7 linked regions of the Homo sapiens genome follow. The protein of the gene in region 6 purifies or fractionates together with the protein of the main gene of each other region. This does not show direct contact. Each region holds a gene or a part of one and is shown on either strand. Other genes may lie near its edges.

What was found.
Region 1: the proteins of MYL10 (region 6) and EARS2 purify together in Homo sapiens (affinity purification with mass spectrometry; one large-scale study listed by BioGRID and IntAct). This does not show direct contact.
Region 2: the proteins of MYL10 (region 6) and CRAT purify together in Homo sapiens (affinity purification with mass spectrometry; one large-scale study listed by BioGRID and IntAct). This does not show direct contact.
Region 3: the proteins of MYL10 (region 6) and TMLHE purify together in Homo sapiens (affinity purification with mass spectrometry; one large-scale study listed by BioGRID and IntAct). This does not show direct contact.
Region 4: the proteins of MYL10 (region 6) and CYP24A1 purify together in Homo sapiens (affinity purification with mass spectrometry; one large-scale study listed by BioGRID and IntAct). This does not show direct contact.
Region 5: the proteins of MYL10 (region 6) and DCAF6 purify together in Homo sapiens (affinity purification with mass spectrometry; one large-scale study listed by BioGRID and IntAct). This does not show direct contact.
Region 7: the proteins of MYL10 (region 6) and CPS1 purify together in Homo sapiens (affinity purification with mass spectrometry; one large-scale study listed by BioGRID and IntAct). This does not show direct contact.

Annotation. Positions count from the first base shown.
Region 1 is NC_000016.10:23,536,851-23,540,350, forward strand, and holds part of EARS2 (nondiscriminating glutamyl-tRNA synthetase EARS2, mitochondrial), read right to left. Parts: intron 1,326-3,500; exon of another isoform or gene 1,233-1,325; intron 705-1,232; exon of another isoform or gene 534-704; intron 383-533; exon of another isoform or gene 154-382; intron 1-153. UniProt on the Homo sapiens protein: Non-discriminating glutamyl-tRNA synthetase that catalyzes aminoacylation of both mitochondrial tRNA(Glu) and tRNA(Gln) and participates in RNA aminoacylation for mitochondrial protein translation.
Region 2 is NC_000009.12:129,094,294-129,097,543, forward strand, and holds the end of CRAT (carnitine O-acetyltransferase), read right to left. Parts: intron 3,020-3,250; coding exon 2,957-3,019; intron 1,843-2,956; coding exon 1,705-1,842; intron 1,320-1,704; coding exon 1,104-1,319; 3' UTR 501-1,103; downstream 1-500. UniProt on the Homo sapiens protein: Catalyzes the reversible transfer of acyl groups from carnitine to coenzyme A (CoA) and regulates the acyl-CoA/CoA ratio. Also plays a crucial role in the transport of fatty acids for beta-oxidation.
Region 3 is NC_000023.11:155,490,953-155,494,452, reverse strand, and holds part of TMLHE (trimethyllysine dioxygenase, mitochondrial isoform 1 precursor), read left to right. Parts: intron 1-342; exon of another isoform or gene 343-1,573; intron 1,574-1,752; coding exon of another isoform or gene 1,753-1,888; exon of another isoform or gene 1,889-1,918; intron 1,919-1,957; coding exon 1,958-2,096; intron 2,097-2,786; coding exon 2,787-2,918; 3' UTR 2,919-3,500. UniProt on the Homo sapiens protein: Converts trimethyllysine (TML) into hydroxytrimethyllysine (HTML).
Region 4 is NC_000020.11:54,171,187-54,175,188, forward strand, and holds the start of CYP24A1 (1,25-dihydroxyvitamin D(3) 24-hydroxylase, mitochondrial isoform 1 precursor), read right to left. Parts: upstream 2,801-4,002; 5' UTR 2,394-2,800; coding exon 2,136-2,393; intron 1,914-2,135; coding exon 1,723-1,913; intron 485-1,722; coding exon 391-484; intron 1-390.
Region 5 is NC_000001.11:168,002,683-168,006,182, reverse strand, and holds part of DCAF6 (DDB1- and CUL4-associated factor 6), read right to left. Parts: intron 2,314-3,500; coding exon 2,194-2,313; intron 1,651-2,193; coding exon 1,390-1,650; intron 1-1,389. UniProt on the Homo sapiens protein: Ligand-dependent coactivator of nuclear receptors. Enhance transcriptional activity of the nuclear receptors NR3C1 and AR. May function as a substrate receptor for CUL4-DDB1 E3 ubiquitin-protein ligase complex.
Region 6 is NC_000007.14:101,612,830-101,616,063, forward strand, and holds the end of MYL10 (myosin regulatory light chain 10), read right to left. Parts: intron 882-3,234; coding exon 833-881; intron 745-832; coding exon 646-744; 3' UTR 501-645; downstream 1-500.
Region 7 is NC_000002.12:210,559,599-210,563,098, forward strand, and holds part of CPS1 (carbamoyl-phosphate synthase [ammonia], mitochondrial isoform b precursor), read left to right. Parts: intron 1-3,500. UniProt on the Homo sapiens protein: Involved in the urea cycle of ureotelic animals where the enzyme plays an important role in removing excess ammonia from the cell.

The sequences.
Region 1 (3,500 bases), on a different chromosome or scaffold from region 6:
TTTTATATTTTTAGTAGAAATGGGGTTTCACCACGTTGGTCAGGCTGGTCTCGAACTCCTGATCTCGTGATCTACCCGCCTCGGCCTCCCATAGTGCTGGGATTACAGGTGTGAGCCACCGTGCCCGGCCAAAAAAGAAATTTTTACAAATGAGTCAGTTGCACATGAGTGAACAGGAGGGTGTTCAGCTGCAGAAGCAGGGCAGCATTATGTCTGAATCAAAGGAACTTGTTTCTTCAAGCTCTTCTGGCAGGAATTCTGACAGTGAGTTTGACAAAAAGTTAAAGAAGAAAAAGTAAGTTGCTCCAGAAAAACTTGTAAAGGAACAAAAGACTGGCAAAACTTTGGGAGCTCTGTCATCTTCCAAACAGAGCAGCGGCAGTAAACATAATAACATGTTTATTTTCTTTTTTAAATTTCATATAGAGATGGGGTTTCACCATGTTGCCCAGGCTGGTCTCGAACTCCTAGTCTCAAGTGATCCACCCTCCTCAGCCTCCCAAAGTGCTGTGATTAGATTACAGGCCACTGTACTCAGCTGATAACATGTTTCAGATTGGGAAAATGAGGTACCTTAGTGTTTGGGATGTTAAAGGGGAAGTGCTAATTGATGGTATTAGAGATTATTGGATGGATCTCAAAGGTTAAATAAAACCAGGAAGAAAAGGTATTTCTTTAAATCCACAGCAATGGGGCCAGCTGAAGAAACATTCATTCATTCATTCATTTACTGAGACAGGGGACAAGGTCTCACTCTCGTTGATCAGGCTGGAATGCAGTGGTGCAATCATGGCTCACTGCAGTCTTGACTTCCTGGGCTCATGTGATTCTCTCATCTCAGCCTCCCGAGCAGCTAGGACTACAGGTATGCACGACTATACCCAGCTAATTTTTTGTATTTTTAGTAGAGACAGGGTTTCTTTCTTTTCTTTTCTTTTTCTTTCTTTTTTTTTTTTTTTGAGTCAGGGTCTCACTCTGTCACCCAGGCTGGAGTACAGTAGAGTGATCACAGCTCACTGCAGCCTAGACATTCCCAAGGGTAAAGTGATTCTCCCACCTCAGCCTCCCAAGTAGCTGGGACTACAGGCGTGCACCACCATGCCTGGCTAATTTTTGTATTTTTTTTAGTAGAAATGGGGGCTCACCATGTTGCGAAGGCTGGGCTCTAGCAATCTGCCCACCTTGGCCTCCCAAAGTGCTGGGATTACAGGCATGAGCCACCGCACCTAGCTGGAACAGATATTCTAATCGATACATTGATGATGCAGTAAGAAAACTGTAAAGTCTGAGCCATACAAAACCTACACTATCCTAGTTGGGTTTTTTTGTTTTTTGTTTTGAGATGGAGTCTCGCTCTGTCACCCAGGCTGGAGTGCAGCGGCGTGATCTTGGCTCACTGTAGCCTCTGCCTCCCAGGCTCCCAAGTAGCTGGGATTACAGGTGCACGCCACCATGCCCAGCTAATTTCAGCAGAGATGGGGTTTCACCACGTTGGCCAAGCTGGTCTCGAATTCCTGACCTCAGGTGATCTGCCTACCTCAGCCTCCCAAAGTGCTGGGATTACAGGCGTGAGCCACCGTGCCTGGCTTCTAGTTGTATTAATCTGTCTTTTTACATTGGCTTCTGTTTTCTAAATGTTGTTCTCCAAGCTGTCATATGTTTGGATTACAGAACAACTTGTAAGATGAATACTTGTTTTAAATGTGCATTATTGAATATGTTCTGTCCAAGTGCGGTGGCTCACTCCTGTAATCCCAGCATTTCGGGAGGACAAGGCAGGAGAACTGCTTGAGCCCAGGAGTTCAAAACCAACCTGGGTAACGAGACCTTGTCTCTACTAGAAATTTAAGAAAAAAAAAGAATTAGCCGGGCATGGTGGGTACATGTGTGTAGTTCCACCCACTTGGGAGACTGAAGCAGGATTGCTTGAGCCCAGGAAGTCAAGGCTGTGGTGAGTCATGATTGCATCGCTCCAGCCTGGGTGACACAGCAAGACCCTGTCTGGAAAAAAAAGTCCTAAGGGAAGCTAACTGTCAGCTTTATTAAGAAGGATTGCTTTGTACCTACCACCTAATGTAAAATAAAACCAAGTAATACATTCTCAACAGTTATGGCCCCCCTCCTTTTTTTTTTTTTTTTTTTTTTGAGACAGGGTCTCATTCTGTCTCCCAGGCTGGAGTGCAGTGGCACAATCTCAGCTCACTGCAACCTCCATCTCCCTAGTTCAGCTGATTCTCCTGCCTCAGCCTCCTAAGTAGCTGAGATTATGGGCACACACCACCAAGCCCAGCTAATTTTTGTACTTTAATATAGATAGGGTTTCACCACGTTGCCCAGGCTGCAGTTGTGTCCTTTTTTTGCTCATAAGAGCTAGTACTGTTTAAGGCCCAAAGTAATAGTTTTTACAGATCTTTTAGTTTCAACTAAGCTTTTACAATAGAAAGGACTTGTATTGCATTGAGTTTATAAACTTTTGGTTTGTGAAATCCATACTTGATCTGTTCTTTTCCAACCAAATGTCTAGGCTTGACTTTTCCACCCCAATGACATTTCACTTTATTAAATATTAGCAGATATACTTTGATAACCAACACAGCTTGTATGAAAACTGAGCAAGTGTCCATCATGACCCATAGGGTTCTGGGTAGTTGTTACCTTACTGTTTAGTCCACAAAAAATAACGACTTAGATAAGCTGTCTGATTTGCTTTCGCTTATTAAACACGTTCACCATGAGATGATGTGTGTAACATCAGATACCGTTAAATTAGACTAGGATTTAATACAAATCCTGAAAGCTTAAAATAAATAAATAAATAAATGGCTGCAAGGATTCCACAACAGGGCATGACTATAATTTAACAAAAAAAAAAAATCTGTTGGCCAGGCATGGTGGCTCATGCCTATAATCCCAGCACTTTGGGAAGCTGAGGTGGGAAGATCGCTTGAGTTTCATACCAGCCTGGGCAAAATAGGGGAATTCCATCTCTACAAAAATTTAAAAACTAGCTGTGTGCCAGCCGGGCATGATGGCTCACACCTATAATCCCAGCACTTTGGGAGGCTGAGGTGGGTGGATCTCCTATGCTCAGGAGTTTGAGACCAGCCTAGGCAACACGGAGAAACCCCGTCTCTACCAAAAAATACAAAAAAAATTTGCCGGGCATGGCGGCACACACCTGTGGTTCCAGCTGTTTGGGAGGCTGAGATGAGAGGACTGCTTGAGCCCAGGAGGCAGAAGTTGCCTTGAGCCAATATCACACCACTGCACTCCAATCTGGGTGACAGAGTGAGACCCCATCTCAAAACAAAACAAAACATAACACTCTGTGTGTGGTGGTACATGGCTGTGGTCACAGCTACTTGAGAGGCTGAGGATGTAGGATTGCTTGAACCCAGGAGATTCAAGGCTGCAATGAGCTGTGATCATGCTACTGCACTCCAGCCTGGGTCACAGAATGAGATGAGAAAAAAAATATTCTGTCAAGAGACAAATACATT
Region 2 (3,250 bases), on a different chromosome or scaffold from region 6:
CAGCCATGGACACGGGGCTATGGGCAGGTATGTGGTTCTGCTCTGATCGCACCTGCCCACCCCCGAAGGTGTCTGTCCTGGCAGCGGCTGGGCCTGGGGCAAGCTGAGCCTGCTGCTGTACTCCTACTTTTGCTGGGCTCAGTTGGGGGAAGTAGAATGACACCCTGGGCCCCTGGGTATTAGCAACATTCATCAGCCCACCAGACCTGGGCCTGCTGGGCCCCACAGTCCCCTGGGAGAGTTGCCCCTACCCACAACCCATGGGACTTGGGAAGGCCCAAGCCAGAGGTAGGTGGGAAGCTGCTGGTGAAGGACGCAGCCCTGGCTCTGGTATGGTTCTGGGCCCAGTGCCCCAAGGTCACAGCTGGACCTTGGCTCCTGGGCCAAAGCCCTCAGGCCCACCAGCTGCTTGGACACCAGCTCCGAGGCCCAGGGAAAGCTGAAGAGGGCAAGGCCAGGTGCCTGCCCCCACCCTGCCTGCCTCTCAGCTGAAACACCTCTTCACCAACACAATTCCCCTTTATTGATGACCTTCCACATTAATATCATACAGCAGGGCGGGGGCAGGAACCAAGCTGAGTGGAACCAGAGGCGGCTCGCTAGCAATGTTATCCACAGGAGCACAGCCGCAACGGAGGTGAAACCTCACACCCTGGCCCCTCGGCCCCAGACAATCCTGTCTCCAGGTCCTGGGAGTTTGGGAAGCAGGGTACAGATGGTGGCCTGGTCATGGAGTTGGCAGGGAGTGGCCGGGGCTGAGCTGGTGAGACAAAGAGCTCTTGCCAGTCTCCTGCTCTGGAGGGCTGGTTCCCTTCCCCAGAGGAGGCACCGGTGGAGGACGTGCCAGGGGCCCGGGCCTAACGTCCTGCTCAGCCTCTGCACTCAGCCCCAGGTCGGGCCCTGGCAGGTGCTGGGATGACCCACGGAAGGCACTTGGCTGGGGCCTGCAGGCCCCCTGGAGGATGCGGTCCGTGGCTCAGTAGATTTGGGGGGACCAGGGAAGAGGGAACCAAGGAAGAGGGAACCAAGGAGCTGAGCCCTGGTGGGTGGCCCATCCCAGGGTGGGCTTGGCTGTGGCATTGGCAGGCCTGAGTCCTAGGGGCTCAGAGCTTGGCCCGGGGGTGGCTCTGCAGCAGGGCACGCATGTCCAGGAGCGCCTTCTCCAGGTAATGCGCCAGGCGGGCGGCGTTGGTCTCCGCGCAGCTGTTGTAGGCCGACAGGGAGAAGTTGATGTGGGCCTCCATGGGGTTATAGCAGACACCGTAGCCGTCGGGGACCACGGGCCCGAAGAACATGACACAGTCTGTCTTGGCAGGGACCTGGGGACGGCAGGATGAAAGCTCTCAGCTCCCCTACCTTGACGCCCCCAGCACTTCCCAGGCTGCCTGTGCTTCCGCCAAGACTGCAGGCCCCTTGTGGGCAGGGATCATGGTCTGTCCCCTGCTATATCCCAGCAACCACTACAGGCTGGCACGAATCAAATGTTCCTTTATACCTGACCAGTGAGTCAGCGAAGCTGATTCTCCCATGAGGAGCACTGACCCCTTCTCAGCCTGCCTGGGCTGCAGAGAGGCCCCTGCCCCCAGCTCCTCCTCTGGAACTCAGCTGTGTTGGCAATGGGTCAGTGGGGCCTGTGTAGGCCACATCAAACTACCAGTGGGTTCTCTGCCTCCAGCCCCCGGGGCACCTGGGGCAGTGGCCCACCTGGCTGGTGGAGAGGTGGAAGTGCATGGCGATGGCGTAGGAGGTGTCCATGAAGATGTCGGGCATGCTCACCAGGTCCTCGATGGCCTGCAGCTTCAGGCCCAGCAGGTGTCGATCAAAGGCCTCCCCGCGGATGGCCTGTTGGGGTGGGAGAGCTGTCAGGAGCAGGGGCTGTGGACCCCCGGGGTATCCCTGCCCTCTTCAGCCTGTGGCAGCGCCACCCTTCGCAGGCACTGGCCACTCAAAACCACAAGACCAGAGTATTCTGGCCAGAGAGAGCCTTCGTTTCACAGATGGGGAAACCAAGGCTCAGGGAGGGGCGGGGATTTGCCCAGGGAGGCAGGAAAGTGCAGGGTTGTAGGGCAGGGCCCTGGAGCTGGGTGACCTAGCCCCATCCTGGCTGCAGGGCCTTGGCAGGTTGCTTAGGTTCTGGAACTGTAGTGTCTTCATCTGTAAAGAGGGGTGAGTCCTACACTCCCCTCGCAGGGTGGCGGTGAGCTCTAAATGGACGTGTGCATGTAGCACGGTCAGAGCCTGGACACACAGGTGCTCAGAGACAGAGCCAGGACACGCATCCAGACAGCCACCTCCCTGACTGCAGCCCAAGCTGCTGGAGGGCAGGAAACTGGCTGTCTGCTGGACCATGTATACCTAGCGTCAGGGAGAGATACCTAGCATCAGGGAGAGAGTGTGACCCAACATCTAGGGCCCAGGCCAGCCCTGGAACCTGGAACCAAGGCAGTTACTGGGCCCAGGCTGGGTTTCTCCAACTTTAAAATGGGGATATTTGGCCGGGCACGGTGGCTCACGCCTATAATCCCAGCACTTTGGGAGCCTGAGGTGGGTGGATCACCTGAGGTCAGGAGTTTGAGACCAGCCTGTCAACATGGTGAAACCCTGTTTCTACTAAAAATGGAAAAATTAGCCAGGTGTGGTGGTGGGTGCCTGTAATCCCAGCTACTTGGGAGGCTGAGGCAGGAGAATTGCTTGAACCTGGGAGGCGGAGGTTGCAGTGAGCCTAAATCACACCACTGCACTCCAGCCTGGGCGACAGAGCAAGACTCCATCTCAAAAAAAAAAAAAAAGAAAAAGTTGGGGGCTATTCAGCCTGGCTCCAGGTGCTCCCAGGTTGGGGGAGATGTGGTCCTAGCAAAGGGTTGGCAGCCATTGGCTGCAGGGACGGACAGTCAGAGGGACAGACAGATGGCTGACACTAAGGGACAAGTGAGTAGGCACAAGCGGGCTCACTTACCCGGTCGGTGTAGCCTCGGTGGGCCTGCACGGCCTTCCGCAGCAGCTCCACCTTCTGGTGCTCCTAGAGTGGTGAGGGTCAGAGGGAGCTGAAGCACTGTCCCTTCTCTTCTGGCCCACCTCAGTAGCCCACCCCCACCCAGCACTAGATTCTGAGCTCTTTAAGAGGAAATATTGGGGCTGGGAGCGGTGGCTCACGCCTGTAATCCCAGCACTTTGGGAGGCCGAGGCAGGTGGATCCCTTGAGGTCAGGAGTTTGAGACCAGCCTGGCCAACATGGTGAAATCCCGTTTCT
Region 3 (3,500 bases), on a different chromosome or scaffold from region 6:
ATGGGGTTTCGCCATGTTGGCCAGGCTGGTCTTGAACTCCTGGCCTCAGGTGATCTGACCGCTTTGGCCTCCCAAAGTGCTGGGATTACAGGCGTGAGCCATCGCGCCCGGCCTATTTTTGCATTTGATTCTTGCAGTAGCCCTGTGAGATCAGCTAAGCAGATGTTATTATGCTCATTTTATATGCAACAAAACTAAGAATGTTGGCTCTGATTGTGCCATGTACTATCTAACACTAAGGAATATTGCCTGAGATATCCAAAAATGGCACCATTGGATGTTAATTTATCTTTGGAAAGAATATCTTTGGCAGTATCTAGTAAATCTGAGCATACACATACCTTATGATCCATAAGTTCCATTCTTAAGTTTATTTCAAATAGGAGTGAATATATTTGTTCACCAAAAGACATGTAATAGAATGTTCATAACAGCACTGTTTGTAGTAGTTCCAAACCGGAAATTACTCATATGTCCATCAACAGTAGAATGGATAAACTGTGGTGTGATCACGCACTCAACTTCCATATAGCACCAATAAACTATTGCTAAGCAATGATGAAACTCCTAAACATAATATTAAATGAAAGAAGCCAGACACAAAATGAATACATATTGTGATTGCAATTATATAAAGTTTTATATAAACAGGCAAAACTAATCTTTGGTGATAGAAGTCAGGATGGTAGTTACCCGTGGGTTGGGGGATGGGCGTTACTGGAAAGGGGCATAAGGGAGGGTTCTGGGGTTCTGGTAATGATCTGTTTATTGACCTGGGTGCTAGTGATATGGATGCGATTACATCATGAAAATTCATCAAGCTTACGATTTGTGTACTTTTTCCGTAATGTATAGTATACTTCAGTAAAAAGTTAATTTGCCTTAGGCAAAACAGAAACCCATTATCTTAGGCAAGGTTTTTCAGTGGCTTCCCATGGTACTCAGAATAAAATCCAAAGTCCTTACCATGGCCTGCATGGCAATATATACATGATCTAGCCCCTGACTACCTCCTCCACGTAATTTCTCCCACCATTATTCCCCTTGCTTACTCAGCTCCAGCCACGTGACCTTCTTACTGGTCGGCAAACAGAATAAAACTCCATTCCACTCCAAGGCTGTGTTTTTGCTTTTCCCTTTGCCTGGAATGCTCTCCCCTCAGCTTGTTACATTGTTGGTCTCGTATCATACAGGTAACAGCTCAAATGTCGCTTCTTCAAAAAGTCCTTCACTTAACACTCCATGTGAAATAGATTTCCCAGTCGCTCTTTATTATATAACACTATTATTTTTTCATAGCATTTATAGCTAGCTGAAATTACTTTGTTTATGTATTTATTACTTGTTTATCATCTATCTTCCTCAATAGAAGGTAAACTCTGTCCAAAGACTGAGGTCGTGTCTGCTGTATTCGTCCTTGTATCTTTAATGCCTGACGCACTGCCTAGCATGTAGCTGGTGCGCATATAAATGTTAGGGTTGAACGAATGATTGAAGATCCCTGGGTGAATGGTCCACTAGGCTATAGCTGGGATTCCTCCCACAAAGGGAGACACTTAAGTTGTAAGTCATCCTGTTAAAAGGAAAGCTTTGTTAGTACAACCTCTCTTGTCCACCCCACCTCAGCTTGGTGAGGAGAAAGCTCAGCGCTTTCCCCAGTGCTTCCATGACCTTTGGCCAGTAAAGACTTAAAATATCATATCATAAGATGAGAGAAACAGTTGGAACTTAACTTCTATCCCGTATCCTTAGATTATTCAAAGAAAAACAAAACACGGTCAACAGGCAGTGGAACTCCTCACTCCAATGTGATATTCCTGAGAGAATATTGACTTATCGTCACTTCGTCTCTGGGACAAGTATTGAACATAGGGGAAGCCTTATATAAAATTGTTCAATAAACAAAAGATGTCTTTAACATGTGTTTGAGATCTTTCTTCTCATGATTCCATGTTAGGTACAACAACTATGACCGGGCTGTCATCAATACCGTTCCTTATGATGTCGTCCATCGCTGGTATACAGCACACCGGACTCTAACGATAGAGTTGAGGAGACCTGAGAATGAGTTTTGGGTCAAACTAAAGCCTGGCAGGGTGGGTCCTAATCTCTAAAGATGTCAAGCAAGCTTGTAATACTGAAGCAGTGAAGAACGGGTACTTACTTAATATGTGAGTCACGATGTTGCAAAGGAAAAAGAGAAAAGAGTCCTTGGTTTTGTTTATGGTCCTGCCGCCCACTCACTGAATGCTCTGGAAGCAAGCCTCATCCCATCTCTAAGGCATCAGTGACTCTATTTGTATGATGAAGGGGTTTAACTAGATGACCCCCAAGGGTCCTTCCAGCTTCATGATTCCATAGTTTTTATTTTTGGTATTTCCTCTGGATGAAAAATACCTTCAGCTTAGCATAAAATGTCATGAGATAATTTAACCCTTTGAGAAAGGGTAGAATAAGAATTAAAGAAAAAGAAAAAGAAACAAACCAATTATCTGATTTACTTTGATAAGAGAACAATTACTTGAGAAACAGAAGCTCCTCCAGTGCAGGGCCCATTACCTACTGTTGCCTCTGTAACTTCCATTTAGCCTACTACAGGGCTATACACATCTTAGTTTCCAAAAGTTTGTTTAATTTCAAAAGAAAAATATCTCATTTAATGCAACCAGAAAACAACCTAAAGGTTATCTTTTAAATGATCTCTTCTGACTTAGGGTTCCTTTGGTCTGTCCTTCTTCTGACAGTGTTTTCTCTCTCTTTTTTTTTTTTTTTTGGCCCATTCACAGGTCCTATTTATAGACAACTGGCGTGTCCTACATGGCAGGGAATGCTTCACTGGCTACCGCCAACTGTGTGGCTGCTATTTAACAAGAGATGATGTATTAAACACTGCTCGCCTCTTGGGGCTTCAGGCTTAAAATTGACAGCATCTGGATTATGAATACACCTGGCACCCTGGCTACCAGAATTTCATATGGGCAGAATAATATTGTGTCAAACTCTACTTCAGATTGTCTCCTTATCCCATCCCACAAAACAGAATCTGTCCGTTTCTCTAGTAAGGGAGACTTGTTGGAGAGGCGGGACTCTGAGTTATCTAATGTCAGACATCTAGTGGGGCAGCTCTCTTCCTCATGTTATAACATGGATCCACTTGTTTGATTTAAACCTTTTAATATAATTTTGGTCAGTCTCCTTCAGAAATATAATCTCCATATTGATAGGAAAGCAATAATTGCCATGAGGTAACGATTTTTTTCCCAAGTAGATCAGTTAGAAAGAAATGCATTCTAGAAATAACAAAAATCCTGATAAAGCAACAATTTGCAAAATGTTTGGTCTTAGGACACCTTAACACTCTTAAAAGTTATTGAAGGCCCCAAGGAGTTCTTGGGTGTGGGTTCTATCTATTGATACTAATTATTTTAGGTATTAAGACTGAGAAATATTTAAAGCTCAAGAAGAACACAGAAGCACACATCCCTCAGCTATGAGAGAGA
Region 4 (4,002 bases), on a different chromosome or scaffold from region 6:
TTCTCACAGCAAACCCGTGGGGTGGGAACTGTTACTCCCATTTTGTAGATGGGGAAACTGAGGCTTAGGGAAGGTAAGTGGTATATAGCCAGGTCTCATAGCCAGGGAGTGGAAAGCTGGGGTTCAAATCCAGGGCTGTAGAATACCAAAGTCCACACTCTCCATTGCTCCCTCATTGTGATATGACTTTAAAAGAGGGTGGAGGAGGGAGAAATAAGGGTTTGGTGGGGAGGAGGCTGTAGGAAGGAATGGAGAGAAAGAGAAGACCCCCACTTTGAATCACCCGAATTGCATTCTTTTTTCCTTTGTTCTTTGTAGCTGTGACTTGAAGCTCCACCAATATCCCTATGTCCCCACGAGCCCCAGGAAAGCTGGCCCCAGCCTGCAGACCTCATTGATTTTGTTGTCCAGCTTCATCACTTCCCCTGGTTTCATTAGTTTCTTTTGAAAGGCACTCCGGACCCGCTGCCAGTCTTCCCCTTCCCTGTGAGAGAAGCAGGAATACATTTAGAGCACACTGAAAAGAAAAGAAGGAGATGCAGAAATACTCCAGCTGCAACTTCAGGAACCATAAAATCAAACAAACACTGAGAATCATGCCAAGAAATAGCCAGAGAATATTAGCATCAGAATATTTGGGATAAAATAGTGATCATCTTTTGACAATAGTTTGACAATAGGATGAAAAAGCACCTTTCCTCCTAGTCAAAGATTGCACCAAAAAGTTGAAGTCCAGATAATTTGGGTTCAGGGATTTTGAGGTGTCCTTGCAGGGAGTGGGGCTGGGAGGCCTGGGGACAATTCCTAGCGGTAAAAGGGGGCATGTGAACACCCCATCACCAGCAACTCAGATCTGTTTGAGGGAAGAATCTTGTCTTCTTTCAACTCATTGGTGTGGGCTTCATATTTACAAAATATCTCAGATTTAGAATTTTGCCATCGCCTCCAAATAATAACATACAGTCAGAGAGTCACTGGAGTAATAAAAAGCCTTTTGCGATCGTGCACTTGTAGGCACCTGCCCCATAGCAGACCATACAGCCTGTGAAGCACCGTGAATTAATAGGGTTTTTAATTCCAGTCATTATATCCTGGAAAATATAACGATTAGGCATTACAGTTTGGGGGTAAATAAAGGTGCTAACTTGTTAAATGCTAACAACTAAAAAGCAGAAGAATCACATCCCATAGTAGCATTTGTCGACCTAAAACACAACTTTGATATCCCTCCTTATTCCACCTTTACAAGTAGAAATAAGGCATGTCCCCCAATCCTCTGCAGAAAATGTCACTGTAAAAAGCCAAAGAGGCTAACTCCTCGCTTTTGAGCTTACAAGGTGTTTCAGGGAGTTTTAAGGGATAATTTTGTTTGTATAAGATGTTTGCCTGGTACGCTGACTTCAGAACCTCATCCTGCCCAAGAGTCTGAACACCACAGTTGGTACAACCCTGTTTTGGCGTTTCTTTGATGGGAGGGTGTGGCCCTGCCCTGTTGCCAGAGAGAACGCAGGTGCTGGGTGCACAGCACGGCTTTTCCGTGGACCGACTCTAATCTGTACAAGAGCTCAGGGTTGCGATGGCACGGGAGAGGGGCTTTGGTATCCGCCCTACGTAAGAAGCTTCCAACCCCAGGGAACTCTAACTCCGCCTCTTCACAATTTCCAGGCGCCGTCAGGCTCATCAGGTCTGGCCGCATGCCCAGGTCCCTCGGATTGGACTCACAGGATCAGCAGCCCGTAGCCTTCTTTGCGGTAGTCGCGATAGGCCTTCCACGGTTTGATCTCCAGCCGCTGCGGGTACGCGCTCTCGGTGCGGTACAGCGCTTCCAGCAGGCATGGCGAGCCCAGGTGCACCGACTCAAAGGAACCCAACTTCATGCGGAAAATCTTGCCATACTTCTTGTGGTACTCCACCTGCAGCCGGCCGGGCACAGCGCGGTGTCAGCGCGCATCCTCCGCCGTGCCCGAAGCGCTTTCCCTCCTCCCGCCTCCTTCCTCCTAGGGGACCGGGGACCCTCCCTGCCCAGACGCCGAAGCGCACCATGCGCCCGAGGCGCGCATGTCGGGGAGGGTTTGGAGCGCCACTGGGAGGGCGGAAGAGGGAGGAGAGAGTCAGGGGCGCGAAAAGGGGTTTACCAGGGTGTCGTGCTGTTTCTTGAGACCCCCTTTCCAGAGAATCTGCAGCAGGCTGCCCAGCAGTGGCCAGCTGGTGGGGCCCGGCAGGGCGGCCGCGTTCTGAGTCTCGCCACCAGCTGTCAGCGGGCAGACTGGCACCTCTCGCGGCTGAGGGGACGTGTACGCCGTAGATGTCACCAGTCTCGGGGGCTGCCTCGGACTGCGCAGCTGCTGCAGGAAGGCGGCAAGCGAGCGGCTCTTGCTGATGGGGGAGCTCATGGCAGCGGGGGACACCGGAGCGCGGGAAGGCAGGAGGATGGGGTGGGGCGAGGTTGGTACGAGGTGCTAGTGGGAGTCGGGGCTTAACGATTCTGGGAAAAGGAAGCAAAGAGGGCCAGCTGGTGTGATGGAGCGGGGTGAGGCGGGACAGGCAGCAGAAAGGACCTCGGCGAGGATGCTCGACGCTGCACCACGCGACAGCCTCAGAGCATTGGTGCCTCCTTGCACTGGCCGCAGGGGCTGGAAGAGGGTGGCCGGTGTCTGGGGACCTCTTGAAAAGGGAAAGCTGGGAGTCCTCCTGTTGGTCCGCAAGGCTGACCTCTAGGGTCTGGCTGGAGCCACGGGGAGGTGTCAAGGAGGGTAGATGAGATGCTGCTGGCGCTGCGTTTCCTCCTGTCCCTCTCCATGTTCCTATGCCCAGGGACCATGCATTTATGGAGACAGAGCATGCCCTGGGTGGCCAATGAGCACGCAGAGGAGGGCGGAGTGGCCCCCGGCTGGCCAGACTCCGAGGGACGCGGGACCCAGGGGAGGGGGGGTGGAAGGAGGATGGAGTCAGCGAGGTGAGCGAGGGCGTCCGGGCCTGGGGTGACCGGGGCTATGTTCGCTGGGCGCGGGAGGTGGGGTGGGGGCGGCAGACTCCACCCCGGAGATAACCCCCAGGAAGTCATGCGAAGCCCGGAGTTCACCGGGTGTGCTTCGAACGCGCCTCCCCGCCCTCCCCCGGCGGGCAGGAGCCGGCAGCGGCGGCCGTGGTTGCCGCCCGGCGCTTGCACAATCGCGATGCCGGGCGGGCGAGGTCCCCGAGTGCGGGCCCAGAAAAGCTGCCGGCGTCTGCCAGGGCCCCGGGGAGCCCGGGCGCCTCCCGGGGAGCCAGATACCCCCAGCCTGGACTGAAGTGATTTTTTTTTTTTTTTTGCCTTTTTTTTTTTGGAGGAAGTTTGGCTTTCTGCGCCTCCCAGGGTGGGGAGGATTTGAGTCTTACTGAAATGCACCAGAAGAGGAGACTTTCTTAACTTGAGCAAGAAGGGGAGTTTGTAGAATTTCCTTCCTGCTGTTTCATGTTTGGTTGTTTTGCAGATTAAATGAATTAATGCACGTAAAGCGGCAACAACGAAGCCTTGTCTATAGTCAACAGTCAATAAAAGTTAGTTGCTGTTGTTACTTCTTTAGGAAGTTAGGAAATGCGCCTTGAGAGCGTGGCTTGCACCAACGATGCTTGAATTCAGGCTGGGCCACCTCCCCTATGTCCACTGCCCGCCTCTGTTCTTCTACACCGACTACCTTGTGCAAAGGAGGGGCACACAGAGCTTGAAACCACCGCCCCCAGTACTCCCCCTCTCCCCCAAGGTGCGTCCTAGGCAGGTCCAGTGACAAACATACACAATTTCTAGAGTTACCGCGGCTGGCAAGAGTAGAACTCGCTTTGCTAATTCAGGAACGGAAGTTGGAGATTTTTGTTGATTGTTTTAAAGTGGCTCGAATCCTTTCAACCTGATCCAATACAAAACTACCACCAGCCAGGGAGGAGGGGAGGGACATTCTGTTTCCTCGCCCTGCTTTTCAATTACGTGTCTCAGTCATTTTTGCCCCAAGTGTTGGCAAATCC
Region 5 (3,500 bases), on a different chromosome or scaffold from region 6:
TTTAAAAAATAAAGTTCCAAATACTTTACTCATAAATATATTTAAGAAACAACTAGAATTAGTTGAGATTCAGTGGAAGCTGAATGTAAGCTAGAGTCTTCTTGCTAAGTTTTCCTAAAAACTTATAATTGATCAATATGTTCAAGAATATCACTTTAAAAATTCTTGCTTTTCCCAATTTTACCTGCTTTGAAAAACAAACTTTTAACTACTTCTGCTTTTAATTCCCAAATCTTCCAAAATATTTTATTTTTCCATAAATTAAAATGCTATGTCAACTGAGTGTGAAAACCTTGATTCTGTAGCTCAGCTTTAGCTTATTATTATGGATAAAATGTATACAGTGTTAACAGTTATGTAACTGACTCTGGCTTTTATTCCCATAGAAACTGAAAATGAATTACTAAAAGTGGTATATACTGATAAAAGAGTGCTTAAATTAAAACATCCCATATTTGGTAATCTGGCATCAGTTTCCAGAGATGTAAGAATAAAGTGACAGCTTGGCAGCTAAGCTGTTAGAAATTTTTTTATAGGTTTCAGCTTAGGCCTGCCAGCTATATTTCTAGTTGCTAATAATTCTGGCTCTATATTGAGTAAAATTCTTCCTTAGAAGAACCAAAGAAAACTATGAATAAATATCTTATTGGTTTTTATAATTACATGTATATAGTTTAAAGTACCGAGTAAACTGTAGATACATCTGCTGAAAATTACTATTATAAATACTAGCACATTCCATAGTTAGGGGAAAAAAGTTGACCATAAAGACTTATAATACTGAGAAAAAAATAGCATTTTAACAGAACGTAGAGGTTATTTTCACTAGCATCAAGTATCAAGAAGATAAGCATTTGGTAAAATAATTCTTTTTCATGTAAATACTAGAGAAACAAATTTTTTGGTAAATTATATGTTGTTGACAAAAGACCATATCAAATCCACCATAGAGAGTATATTAAAAGTACTGCATTATTTGAGGGAAATAATCAAGAATATAAGCAAAGTGAAACTAATACTGATATTTTCATAATCACTTTAATATAGACATAAAACCAAATAAATCTAGAAAGATATTTTGGTCTCTAATAATCTATAAAATAATATTTAAGTCAGGCACATTAAACTATGTCAAAACACTATCTTTTGGTACTTGTACTTTTAAAACAATTGTTTTATATAAATTGAAGATTCCTGCTATTTGTTAAAATTCATGCAAGTAAGACATAATTAATTTTTGTGTTTAAGTTACATAACCATATATTACATGTCATTTTGATCATTTATTCCAACAAGAAGTTGATGTGATTTAGTATCTTTCAAAATAGCCAGTAAAGAAATTTTCACTATCAAAAATCATTAGATGAACCACAGCATACTTATCCTCACCAGACTGATGATGTGTGTGGTGTCCAGATGCCTCAACAGACTGCCTTTGTTCACTGTCTGGAGAAGATAGCAAAGGAGTAGAATGAGGGCTTTCTGTGGGAGATGATGTCGAATGAGCCTGAGCTGACATTGTAGAGGATGTAGAAGGCTGAAGAAATTGTTCAGCTGGAGTATCTACTTCCATTGCAGTTTCACTCACTTCCAAATCAGGACTTGATGGGACCGTAGGAAGAGTTGAAATATCTGATTGACTTGTTCCACCTTCAAAACACATGTTAAGGCAAATTCAAATTTTAAATATTTTCTAAAACCAACAACTCTAAACAGATATGCTCAGAAAACACATTTATATTTACACACACAAATATATAATTTCAGTGATAATAACTACTGGTGATTTGGCCCATTTGACAAAATAGGCCAGTCAAGAGGGATAAAAACTTATCTACAACATATTCTTGTTAAAGCAATCAATCTTTCCTATTACATAAAACTTGTTTATACACAGAATTTTATATATTTCCATTCTCAGAGTGCATTAAAAAAAGGCTTAAAATAGGAAACCTCAGATTCTTCTACTTTACTTTGAGAAAAGCAAAAGATACGCACTAGGTCCAATGGCACCAGAAGGGACAAATTATATCCAATATCTTTTATTCTCTACTACTTCACACCACACAATAAGAACCTTGTGATTATTACAGATGTAAAACATGGTATAATTTACATGATAGAAATAAAAACTGGCTTCAATAAGTAGTTTTTGCCAGCTTTCTGATGACTTTAATTAACATTAAAAATTACCTCTGGGTCGAGATCTTCCTCGTCCTCTATTGCTTTGTGCAACCTCACTTGCTTCTTCAAACCATCTTGATAACATATCAGACATTCTCTGCATCAATGACACATTGGGACTCTGCTCTCCTATTACAATATAGGTCTTATCAGTGAGTTTAGTAATAAGTCAGAATCTTTCATTAATACAAAAACCTAGATTTGAAGGGCTTTAAAATGAAAGCATATTTTTAAAAATCAAATTTCCTAAATAAATTGTATGAATGTATATAAATCTATTAGAGCTCTCATCACATTTTATAGTAATTGTTTATATCAGTGACTTTCCATGTGTATGGTAAGGTTTCTTGAGAACAGGGCTCACCTCTCCTTCATCTTTGCCTATTCTTAGGTACCACTAAACCTCCCACTTCCTACCTCAACCTAAATTTTTAGTTCTAAGAGTACCCAGCCAAGAAAGGCTCATGAATTCTAAGTTTAATAGATTAAAAGAAAGGTTTTCCCTCTCCCTAAAGCATTATAATCAAGTACAGACACAAAATAGCCTTATGCTTTTGCATGAAGTTTCCTTAAAGTCAATTTATTTTCAACATCATTTACTGTAAGCAAATTTCAGATATTTGAAATTAACTGGAACCAGAAAGTATTTTGTCTCTTCCCTCACTCCTTTTCCTCCTGCAAGTAAACAAGTTTTTCCAAGGGTATTTTCAAATTAAAAGTGTAATGTCAAATTCAAAATGTGACAACTCTATTCTATAGTCTTATAATTTAAAATGAAAATCGGTTCTTCTTACATTTTCTGTGAAATCAGAGTTTCTTTTACACTTTATTGCCTTTATATAATGTAGCTCATATATTGGGGAATATGCTTTTGATCACAAGAGATGTTTCAGAAGTCATTATAGTAAGATTTTGGTTACAGACCAATTTAATAAAACATAATAATATAGAATTATAATTCATAGATTAATTCTATTTTCAAGTGTGCTATCTTAAAGCTCCCAGGGTTGATTCTTATGCTTATCAAAGGCACTTGATAGAAAACATTTTATGTGCTAATATAAAACCCTTGGGCTGAGTTTTCATTTCTCTTAATATCTAATAGAAAGGCAAAAACTGCAAAGTCTGACAATACCCAACGTACTATGGGGTAATGGGCATTCTTATACTTTCAGTGGGAATGTAAATTAGCACATCTTTTTTGGAGACTAATCTGATAACAACTACCAAAATTAAAAGGTACTTATCCAGTGACTGCGCCATTCCACTTCTAAGAATTTATCCTAAGATATATTTGCATAAGTATACCTATATGT
Region 6 (3,234 bases):
TGAAGTCCAACTTATCCACTTTTATGATCACAGTTATGTGTGTCCCATTTAAGAAATCCTTGCCTACCCCCTAAACATCCCTTGAAGCCACCTCTTCCCTTCTGACGTCTTCACCTCTAGCCAGCTCTTTGCAGCCAGTTTTCTCCCGTGCTTCTCCATTCTCCTCCCACCGATGTCCCCACCCCACTTTTTGCCCCCTCCTCTGCCTTCCTCACTGCAGTCAGCACCATATCCTGCCCAGGGACAGTCCTGGCTCCTCTGAGAGTCCCTGGGACCAGCACAGCCTCTGGCATGCACTAGGTGCTTAATAAAAGCTCCATAAATGAAGGCAATATCCCGTGGCTTAGCAGGGAATCGTTAAAACTGTCAATTAGCTCTAAACACCAGCTCCTCGGGAACATTTGAGCAGAGCCAGAGGAACAAAAAAGGTTTGGAAAAACCAACAAGATAGGAATGTTTCGTTTTCTCCCTCGCTGGAGCATTTACCGCACAAACTCAGACCTCATTAGCATTATTTATTCTTGCTTTGTCCCCAACCGTAGGACAAGGGAAGCCTTTTTCCTGCAGCCTCTGGCTGCAAGAGCTCCCTGTCACACCCCACAACAGTGTTTGCTGCCCCTGAATGTCGGGGAGACTTGTGATCCCCTAATCCTTCTCTTCACCGTGAGTGATGACGTAGCACAGGTTTCTGTAGTCCAGGTTGCCGCACACATCTGGGGGAAATGCTGCAAACATCTGCTTGACCTGAGAAGGAGCAGAGAGTCAGCCTGCACCAGGCCAAGTGGGGGCCAGAGCAGAGAATCCGCCGTGACCCACCAGAATCCCAGTTTACCTCCTCCTCACTGAAGCGGTCTGCCTGGGTCATAAGTTTTTCTTTGATGCTGTTCAAGGGAGAGACACAGTCATGTTCAGGGAACGGGATACCCAGCTTGAACATGCAGATCCCAGGGGTGATGAGGGGCAAGTGGGGGCAGGGGGACATCCTGGACCAGGAGGACATCAACCTGGGGCTGACCCTGCCAGCCCCCCCGATGGCCAAGTAGCTTCTGAACCTCGGTTTTCTCCTCCATGAAGTGGGCTTTCCTCCCAGCATCAGGTAGGGACCAAAAGCAATGACCTGGGGACCCCACCATGAGGGCTACTCTGATTTCCCATCATGCACTATAATCAAGCTCTGGATCATTGAGGGGAGACACCTCAGGTCCCCCACCGCAGAGCCTCTTTTGCCTGATTCTGGACACACTCTTTCCTCCAGCTTGTGACGTTCACTGACACCTGCATAGTGTTTTAGAGACAAGATGCCTGTGCTCTGCCAAGGGTACAGGAAGGCCTGCCCAGGTCCGTGTCCTCCTGGGCCTGCAAGGGCCTGCCCCCTCAAGCTTGGAGGGTCCTGCAGGGTTCTTAAGGGAGCTCAGTGGGCAAAGATGGGATCAGACGGCTGAGTGGGGCCTCGTCCACCCAGAGTGTCCTCTGGCACCGGCTGCGGCAGGCCTCGCTAAGGACCAATGCACATTTTCCATTATTTATGTTTCTGTGGGACAGTCACAGTTTCCAGCTCTCCAAGCCGGGGACTTTTCACAGACTCTGTTTCAACCAGAGCCTCCACCGTGGCCTGTCTGGCCTGCCTGGCCTGCAGCCACAGATCCAGGTCCCATGTCCCAAGGCAGTGCCTTCAGTTCCCAAATTAGGTCCCCAAAGGGTCTTCCCAGCCTTGTCCTTGCACTGGTGAGAGAGAAAGTGGTTGACAGTAGAGGGAGGGCTTGGGGTTACTCCGGGGGTGACTCTGATGCCTCCCCAGGTCCCCAGGATGGAGGTAGGAGCCACAGACCCCGAGGGAGGGGTGAAGGGGAGGACTGTGGACTGCAGCAACCCTCAGCATCCCCTCCCCATCCCAGGGGAGTATGTGACTCATGGTCTTGGAGTTGAGAATGTGTGAGACGGGACAGACCCTCTCCACCTCCACCCCTGCTGCGTCTGCCCTCTCCCTTTGAGATGCGAGAATCTCAAAACCAGCAAAACTAGCCTCAAAATGAAGGCTGGCAGCATTACAGTAATTGATCAGGAAGCCTGGGCCTGGGGAGGAATCTCACCTGCCCCAGGCCACCCTCAGGTCCAGCAAGGTTCTGAAGGGACTGCGTCGGCACAGCTCAGAGGTCAGCCCTGAATCTTGGGTCCTGGGAAGGCTGCCACTCCCCCGCCCACTCCTGCCTGCAATTCTTGGCTCTCTGTTCCCTTGCTGTCACTGGGTGGGGCACCCCTACCCTCATGATGGCAGCCCCGGTGCCTGCCAGACAGCTGCCTGCAGCCACTTCCCCTTCATGCATTCCAAGTGAGCTGGTCACTTTCCCCAATCCTTACTGCCCTCTTGCCCGAGGCGGTGCTGGCTACGATCTGGCTCAGTCCTCTCCCCAGACCCTGGATCCTATGGGCACTGGCCCCTGGCTCTTTGCTTATCTGTCCGCCCGACTCCATCTCGACGGCCATGACCCTCCTGGGAGCTGCAACCCTCTCCTCTCCTTCTCCAGGCTGGCCTCCATGGTGTCCTTGCCTAACTCCTCCTCAGGTTCTCCCATGCTCCCAGGGCAGACGCAGGGTCCAGGGGCTAGGGTGTGAGCGCTCCCCCAGAGGCCCCGCCTGCCGCTCTGTGCTCAGTCTCCCCTACACCACCTCCACCCGCACCCTCCAGCTGCAGCCAACTCTGAACAAACATGCACATGCCAAGCCCTGGCCCTCCAAGCTCTCTGTTCCCTCATCTAGAATGCTGTTCCCCCCCTAGCCTGGGCAACCTGCAGTCATTCTTCAAGATCTGCCTTTGCCCCCACACCCACCCCACTAGGAAGCTCTCCTGGAGTGACCCACCACTTCTTCTTTTTTTTTTTTTTTTTGAGACAGTCTCACTCTGTCGCCCAGTCTGGAGTGCAATGGCGTGATCTCGGCTCACTGCAACCTCCACTTCCTGGGTTCGAGCGATTCTCCTGCCTCAGCCACCAGAGTAGCTGGGACTACAGGCATGCACCACCATGCCTGGCTAATTTTTTTTATTATTTTCAGTAGAGATGGGGTTTTGCTGTGTTGGCCAGGGTGGTCTCAAACTCCTGGTCTCAAGTGATCTGCCCACCTCGGCTTCCCAAAGTGCTGAGATTACAGGCGTGAGCCACCGCGCCCAGCCTGACCCACCATTTCTTATCCATTTCTACTTCCACGCACACATAGAGAAGGGGACACCAAGGCCCA
Region 7 (3,500 bases), on a different chromosome or scaffold from region 6:
TAGATACCATAATCTTTTTCCATTAGTACTGAAAATGTTCAGCACTCATTATTACATTCAGCAGGCTGTAACAGTGTAATAGTGGGATATACTCTGGATTGGGCACAAAAAGATCTGGAATCTAACCCCTGTTATGCATTTCCTAATGCCCTGTTCTTGGACAAGTCACATATTCTCTGAACCTAAGTTTTGTCATCTGTATAGTGCAAATGATGACTGATTTACTTGACAAATTATGTGATTGTCACACATGAACAATTCTCAAAAATCTTTAAAGTTTTAAATTTAAACCATTAAACTGAACATTTTAAAGCAAAAACTGGATATTTAAAAAAAAATTCCATTCTATACATTTTAGTAGAAGGACTTAGTAGAGGGTTAGATCAAAGAGTCCTTATGTTTTTTATGGACTACAAGTTGTTGCAATGACAAGGTATTTGATAAGAATTCTCAAATATTTATAATAATGATTTGTTCACCTTTGCCTTAATATTAAACATCTCTAAGAAGATATTTCTTATAATAAATCAGACTCAAGGAAAATGAAGCAAATAATCTTTTTTTTTCAGTATGGCAAATTTAATTCCAAAAGGCAGAATAGACACCATAATAACCTATTTCATTCATTCATTCATTTATTCTTTAATAAACACGGAACCTCTACCATGGGAGTATACAGGAAGAATGATAAATAGAAATAAGTGGATCATAAGAGTATAGTCTCTGATTTCAAGAAACTTACAGACTTCAGAATTCTGAGTTCACAAGTCTGGGAAAGTCATCAAAGCTAAATAGTTTTATTTTTACTTGCAAATGAATTTGGAAATCAAAAGTATTAAATTGTAAAGCTTAAGTTCCCTATGAATAGAAAAGTGTTCAATAAGTACTCCTTCTAACATTAATCCACTCATTTTTTAACAATGGTGACCTGTGTTATAATTAAGCTAGGAACCTAACAATCCAAGTGTCCTCTCTGATACTTCAGCTACGAATGAGCACTGGTAGTCATTATTTCTTTTGAAAGGCATTCATTTTTAAGATTTTATATTCTGATTTTCACATAGAAGTATCTATTTAGTTCCGTCTTGAGGAGCTATTGTCATTTGATTAGAAATTGGCAACTATAAAAACTCCTACAATTAGAATAATTTACTTACATTGTAGTAGCTTTAAAGATAGTCACAGGAAATATAACTCATTATCATATTGGAGCCTCTGTACACGTTAGATGTAAGAGTGGGGATGGGGTTATCACACACTTTTAAGAATAACTATTTTATTGGACTTTTACTACATATAGACACATTTTAGGACGGATTTCATCTATGGCAAACTACATTTTTGAAATATTAATTGTGTTCAGTCCCAAATGAGCTGTTGCAGAATTAGTTTGCCTGATGGACAACTTTACATACTTTTGGCATGCAATACTTCTCTAATTGGGAGATGGCCTTTCTTTTGAACATTTTAATTTTTTCCATTTTTTATATCCCCAATTTTCTAAAATATAGATTCATTTATTAGTCACCAACAACGCCTTGACATTATGAGCTTCTTGACATAAAACTCTTGAAAAAACTATAGTTTAAATGTCCTAGACTAGGTTAAGTGAGTGAGGTACCTGAGATGCAAAATTTAAGGAGGCTGTCACTGTTAGTGTCATGGTGTATCTCTTTGAGAGTTAGGCCCTAAGCACATCACTCAGTACCCTAGTCCCAGCTTTGGGTCAGAAGCTAAGCATTCTGGCTGTAGAACTGCCCAAGGGACTAGTACTAATCTTGACCTGTGCTTTCCTCTCCCTCATTCCAATTTGCTCATGTCTAGCCAGACTTTCTGACGATCTAGAGGTGACATTAGGTCTTATTGCTATGGAAATGGAGACTATTCCTCTGCCTTTACATCTGTATTAGACTTTCTTCATATTTCCAACCTGTTCCAAAAATTGAGGGGTGCTGTAGAAAGTTTTCAGTATCTCTTAGGCAATGGGCATGCTAGAATTCACTTCAAGCCTTCAGGAGGAGTTTGGTATGCTACGCTGACTGCCCTTGATGGGATTTGTATTTCCTGGGGCATTTGCAATGACGGAGGCCCGAAAAAAGCTGCGCGGGCCAAGGTCAAAGTTTGTGTTAGGCTCCTTAGCCCTAGGGATCTTTAGCTTCCATTTGATTTTCTTCATGTGATCTAAATGAGTTGAACTTATAAAAATATTTTCAAGGCTACTCTGTTTGCTTTTTATTTTTTTCAACTTGTTAAATGCTATACATTGATCTTTTAAATTTCATAGGGAGGTAACTGACTAATTTGAAGTTCTCATAAATGAATCAATAGGGTTGCTACATTATGAAAGAATTTTACTAAGTTTCTTCTATAATGCAGACTGAAATATAAGACCATTTTAATTTATCACCACCATACAGTAAAAATTAGCTTATGATATGTAGGTTCCTCCAGGATTCTGAACAACTTGCCACATAGCAGATGCTCAGTAAGGCATATTAATAAACCTACACTTTATGAACATACTTTGTAATGAAATTTTTATAAATGCTGTATTTTATTTACAATGAGAAACCTTATTAGAATAAAAATGATTCATAAATCTTAATCTTTTGTTTATAAATGTTCAAACATAAAAGTACTTAAGTAAATTAACCTTTTGATTTTGTCCCCTTAACATTGGCTTATGTTTAACCAAAGACCGATGACTTAATATTAACTTGGAATGTTGTAAGATTATTAACTGAGAATGTGGTAAGGCCTAATTGATTACTGCTGTTACAGTGCTTCAGAATTTTGAAGTGTTAGGCCTTGTAACTGCAGAGAAGTCTCATGAAATATTTCAAAGACAAATTGTGCTGAAATTCTAAATTTCAAAAATCCATATCTTAATAGTGTAATTCCAAGAATAAAAGAATAAGATTTCATTTACTTGATTTTAACTTTTTACCATATTATCTACACAATAATTACCTGAAATAAATTCTGGCTTTAGGCTTTCTACTTTTCAGTGCTTAGTTCAGATTTATTTTTTAAGAGGATGAGTACTGAGGCGAACTAATAGCTTAGAAACATCAGGTAAGCCAGAAAGCACGTATGTTATATAGCCTTAGGCCTTGGTGAAAATGGAAAAAAAACATGTGGGGCCTCTACTTTTTCTGAAGTGCAAATAGTTTACGTAGATAAATGATTCAACAGCAATACCATAATCCCAGAGTAAATTATTTTCATTTTTACTACTAGCTCAAGGGAATTACTGACTTTTAAATGGTGTTTTTTTTTTTTTTTCAAACCTTTTATGGAATCTATTGCTGAATTAGCTTAAGGCTTTACAGGCAGAACATTTTAGTGGTGGAGTCTCATATCTAGGAGAAGAAACATTTCTGTTCCTCCCATTTCACAGATATGTAAGTGCTGAAGTTAAAACAAGGACACATGGATGCCTGTTTTTGTACGTAAAACAAAATATACATTAGCAAATTTGGTTAGAATTTTAATTAGGC